Linked DNA regions of Homo sapiens: region 1 is linked to region 2. The links come from fine-mapping of genetic effects on gene expression. Tissue or cell type: breast. Region 2 holds a variant in brackets; the other region holds the start of a gene. All regions are shown on one strand. Distances are between the middles of the regions.

Region 1 (2,685 bases), 56 kb after region 2:
TGCCCATAGAATTTCCACCCATTCACACCTGTAGTCCCAGCTGCTCGGGAGGCAGAGGCAGGAAGATCACTTAAGGCCAGGAGTTCAAGACCAGCCGGGGCAATATAGCAACACCACTCCATCTCTTAAAAACCACTTAGAGCCCAGAGTAAGCTGGTCCATTTCCTCCCAGGCTCTGCATTTCTGAGTGTTCGGTGTGGTTTTCACACTACATAACGTCGTGCCCCTCCAGGCCGTGAGAAGATGTAGTGCCCTCACCTTGGTTAATTGCAGGAATGTCCTTGTCCCCGGAGGCCTGGGTTCCCTCAGGGGTGAGGCCATCTGGGAAGCTGGTACCACAGGCTCCTGCGCAGCTGGAGGCCAGGGGCGCTCCTAGGATCACACCTGGTCCAGACAGACAGGGGCATACACAGATGCCTGGAGCACCCACCGGTGAGACCAGACAGCAGGACATGGGGTGGGTGTGGGGGATCAGACGGTAAGACTCAGTCCCTAGGAAGAGTAGGCTCCAGCACAAAGCCAAGGAGCCTTCCCAGCCTCCCTGCTCAACCCCAACTGGTGCCAAGGTCTAGATGACCTCAGGGAAGGAGCTCCCTTAGGGGGACCAAAAGGGACCATGTGCCCCACCTATGAGGTAGAGGAGGGGCAGGAAGGAAGGAGGCAGGACAGACCTCGGGTTCTGACGCCCGTGACGGGCAGGGCCAGCCTCAGACCCCACCTTATGACTCTCTCTCAGCCCAGGCTCTTGGACAATGGGCTCAGCCTGGATGACTCCCTGCCTGACCAGGCTGGAGTGGGGACTTACAGCCTACCCCCACCCCAAGACAAGTAGGCCTGGGGCACAACACTTATCTTCTGCCAGGCAGGCCCTCTGCTTCCAGGGCCTTCAGGAGGCCTCCCCTTGGCCCCCCAGGAGCTGACTTCTAGAATAACCCTGGAGAGCTCTGTGCTCTGAGCTACTGAGCTCAGCTACAATCCCTGCAGGCTCCAGCCACAACCTTCTAGCCTCTCCCCAGCTTTCTCCAGGCTGGAGCCAGCAGCAGGAGGGACAGGCAGCCAGCTTACCTGGCAAGGAGAGCAGACCCAGCACCCAAGGCCAGAGACCCCCTACACCCTCCATGGTAGAGCCCTGCTGCCCCTTCAGCAAACAAGACCAAGCCCCAGCAAGACACAGTAACCTAATTGCAGAACCGGCACCACCACCCCCTCTTAAATAGCAGCTGCTCCACCTCCCACCTTGCTCCCCTCAACCGCCTCCACCTGCAGCCCCGCCCCAACCACCTCCACCTGCAGCCCCGCCCCAACCATCTCCACCTGCAGCCCCGCCCCAACCACCTCCACCTGCAGCCCCGCCCCAACCAGCTCCACCTGCAGCCCCGCCCCAACCAGCTCTACCGGCAGCGCCACCCAAACCAGGTCTACTGGCAGCCCCTCCGATGCCTACCTGTGGTTCCCACCCCAGCCCAGTCCCCTTCCTGGCTGTAGCAGGTGAAAGACAGGAGGGGCCCGCTTGGGAGTGTGGCTCTTCTGAGGTTCCTTCCTGCCTCCAGGGGGCAGAGAAACATCGCAGAAAGTTGCTCCAGGCCTAGCTGAGGCCCCAGCCCAGGTATAGACCTATTCCTCCAGCGAGGGAGACCCCCTTTCCTACCCCGGCCTGTGCTTAGACATGGGGAAAGCTGCCTGAGACCCTGGGGCGCCCCCCGTGTATCTCCGGAAGGAGGAAAAGGTCACTGCACTTTCACAAGCTTTTATTTTAGTACACATATAGAAAAGTTCACTATCACAAGCACAGGGCTCCAGGAAATTTCACAAACTGAACAGTGTGCAGCACCCTAGAAAGCCTGCCATGTGGGAAAGGTGGAACCCCCAGATGCCCAGAGCCTCGCAGGGAGTCCACCCCCTAATCCCACAGCAGCTGGCATGATCAGTCAGTATTTATTCCCATTTCACAGATTTGGAAATTTAAACTCCTTACCTATATCCCCCCTCCTCCATACCCCTGAGCCCCAGAGCCAGGTCACTCAGGGCCCCACCTGGATTGAAATCCCAGAGGCGGAGCATGTCAGCGCTGGGCAGCATTTGGGGACACCCCCACAGTCACCTGCACCCAGTGAAGGGAAGCGACAGAGCCAAGAAGAATAGCTATTGTCCACAAGGACCTTTCAGCATTCCCACTGTGCCTGGAATCCAGAGCTTCTCCAAAGATAGGAATCAGAATCACAGGGAGACCATGATGGAGGCAGACGCCCTGCTGCCAGGGCAGGGTATTGACAGATGTCAGGATACACACCATGGATATGCTAGTTAGCTTGTTGTGGTCATCATTTCACAAGGTATGCATATGTCAAAACATCACGTTGTATACTTAAACATATACTACTTTTATTTGTCGATTATGCCTCAGTAAACCTAGAAAAAATAAGTAAAATAAAGAATAGGACCCATCAAAAAACAAATGCACAAGGCTGACCACTTAAGATGAGTGTTCAGGAGGGCGCGGTGGCTCACGCCTATAATCCCAGCACTTTGGGAGGCCAAGGCAGGTGGATCACGAGGTCAGGAATTCAAGACCAGACTGGCCACCATGGTGAAACCCCATCTCTACTAAAAGAATACAAAAATTAGCTGGGCACGGTGGCGGGCACCTGTAATCCCACCTACTCGGGAGGCTGAGGCAGGTGAATC
Region 2 (2,685 bases):
AAGACATTAGATTTTTGTTAGATGCATAGGCTGTAAACATTTTCTTTCATTCTATGGGTTGTCTGTTTACCCTGTTGATAGTTTCTTTTGCTTTGCAGAATCTCTGTCTTAGTATATTTACACCATTGGCATTCAAAATTATTATTGACATAGATTAATATCTACCATACCCGTTACTGTTTTTCTATTTGTTGCCTTGTTATTTGTTCCTCTATTTTTCCTCCCACTCTTTTTCTGCCTTTTGTGGTTTTTAATTGAGCATTTTATATGACCAAAAAATAAATAGTCAGCATATTTCTGCTATGGTCTGAATATGTTCCCCCAAAATTCATATGTTGAAATGTAACCACCAATATGATAAGAAATGAGGCCCTTAGGAGGTGATTAAGTCATGAGGGTGGAGCCCTCAATAATGGATTAGTGCTTTAACAAAATAGGTGAGAGGGGGCTATTCATCTTTTCCACCACGCAAGGACACAGCAGGAAGGTACCACCTTGGAAGCAGAGAGTGAGCCCTTATCAGACACCAAATCTGCTCTTCCCTTGATCTTAGACTTCCCAGCCTCCAGAACTATGAAAAATAAATTTGTATTATTTATAAATTATGCAGTCTGAGGTATTTTGTTATAGCAGCCCAAGCGCACTAAGACAACTTCCTTTTTAAAAAAAATACTTTTCTTCTTATTTTTTTCACTTGTTTCAGTATTTTCCCTAGATTTGCAGTATACGTCTACAACTAATGCAAATCCATCTTCAAATACCAAATACTACTTCATGGGTTGTACCAAGTATCTTATAATAACAAAATAATCCCAATTCCTGCCTCCTGCCTCTTATGTCTGCTCTCATTTATTTTACTCATACATAAGCATACTTAAGTATATGTTTCTATGTGTATAATATACATATACGATTAAATAATTGAATATATTGTTGCTATTATTATTTTGAACAAACTGTTACCTGTTAGATCAATTCAGAATAAAAAAAAAACACTTTCTATTTTATCCTCCCTCATTCCTTCTTCAGTGCTCTCTTTCTTTATATAGATCCAAGTTTCTGACTTACATGTTTTTCTTTTTCTTTGAAGAACTTTCAATATTTCTTACAAGGCACGTGTACTGACAATAAATTTCCTCAATTTTCGTTTGTCTGAGAAAGTCTGTATTTCTTCTTCACAGAGAGTTGTGGATGGAGCCCCTGCATCGCAGGATGAGAGGCCAGACCAGAGCAAGGCAGAGGATGCCATGTTCCTTCTCACCAACACGTGCTCCTCTCAAGCTGCCAACGGGGCGGCTGCACAACCAGAGTTCCAAATTACAAGCATGTTTTCTGGGAGGGGCC[A/G]CAAGGTAGACAACCCCCCACCTCCGGCAGCTGCCCAGGCCCTAAGCCCTGGAGTCCTGGCTCGGGCTATTACTGACCATCCCTGTGATCCTGGGCAAGAGGTCTATCTGCAGGGGAGGAGGTGCTGAACTAACACACTTGTGCGTAACTCAGGTGGCCCAGGTGGGCCTGCATCTCCAGGCCTTTCCAGGCAAAAGGTAAGAGTATTGGCTTGTGCGGCTCCCGTGACCCACACAAGGTCGTACCTTGGTGCCTTGCCATGAGCAGGCAGTCCTGCGAGTGCCACACTTCTTCCAAGGCCTGAGGTTTGGACAGCCTGGGTGCTCACTCTTTGCTGATCACTTCACAAAGCTATCAGATCCATCCCGCCTTGGTAATAGCTCTTCTCTCAAGGATGTCCTTCCAGCCTGCAAAATGCAAGGCTCCAAGCCTGTGTCCTGGCCAGGCCGGGGTCCAGTCTTGGACTCATACTTACCCCAGCCCACGGCTAGTCTGCAAGGGGACAAAATGGAGAGAGGGCCAAGACACCTGCCTGTCCCCCAGGACCTCTTTGCTTGGCCAGCTGAGGTCATCAGGTCATCGATTGGAAGGCCAGCTCTCCTCTCCACCTCCCATTCTGGCAGCACTTCACAGTTTACAAAGGAAGCTTCTCCACTCCCAAGAGTGTAACTGACCTCATAACTTCCTTAGAGAGGAGGGAAGCTGCTTGCCCAAGACCACACCACTTATAAGGAACAGGCAGGGACAGGGACTCACATCTCCTGTCTCTCCGAGCCCAGTGTAGCTTACACAGCTGCCCTCCCTCCCACCCCACTCATGGGCAGCTCTCAGGCTGCCTTAGGTGGCCAGGAAGCCCACCTGCCTCTTCCCCTAGTCCTGGGAGGGCCACCACATCCTGGGGTCAACATCCAATGAATTTGGCAGGCACTGTGCAGTGTCACTTTAATTAGGAGGCTGATGAGATGGAGGCTGCCATAGCTTTAGCAGTGGACTTTTCCTTAGTCCTGCAGACCCTCCCTACTCCAGCTCAGCCCAAGGCAGAGCCTGCTCGGTCAGCCACTGGCCTCCAGCCTGGCAGTGTCAGGAGGAGGGGAAGTCAGGCCTGGCGCCGGGGCTGGCCAGCCAGGGGCCAAGGACTGCAGAGCTGCTCACGTCCGCACATATCTAAGCATCCACATCCCATGACCTGCTTCCAAGGGCCAAGGCCCCCACCCCTCCACTGGGGACAGCTGCCTTCTGTGCTCAGCCAGAGGTGGCCCAAAAATTCTGGCTGGCCTAGCCTCGTGCCCCAACCTCAGCAGAGAGGCATGCAGAAGGCCACGTCTGCCAAGCCCTCCCAGG

Direction of the effects. Alleles are on the strand shown, and positions count from the first base shown. SD is a standard deviation of normalised expression in the study named.
With allele A in place of G in region 2, the expression in breast of the gene that starts at base 1,186 in region 1 is lower (moderate effect, 0.65 SD a copy in GTEx).

Evidence for each region. PIP is the estimated chance that this variant, and not a neighbour inherited with it, causes the effect.
Region 1: ASTL starts here. The variant in region 2 is fine-mapped to the expression of ASTL in breast (GTEx, PIP 0.97).

The regions. Positions count from the first base shown.
Region 1 is chr2:96,137,317-96,140,001 of GRCh38, forward strand. It overlaps ASTL (astacin like metalloendopeptidase), which reads right to left and starts at 1,186. Exons shown (of 9, transcript NM_001002036.4): 1 at 1,066-1,186; 2 at 259-384. The coding sequence starts at 1,120. RefSeq lists an enhancer at 1,041-1,110 and a silencer at 2,001-2,090.
Region 2 is chr2:96,080,962-96,083,646 of GRCh38, forward strand. No RefSeq gene overlaps it. Among named protein-coding and RNA genes, the nearest start is that of ADRA2B, 34 kb to the right of the region's middle. The variant A/G (reference allele first, on the strand shown) is at 1,345.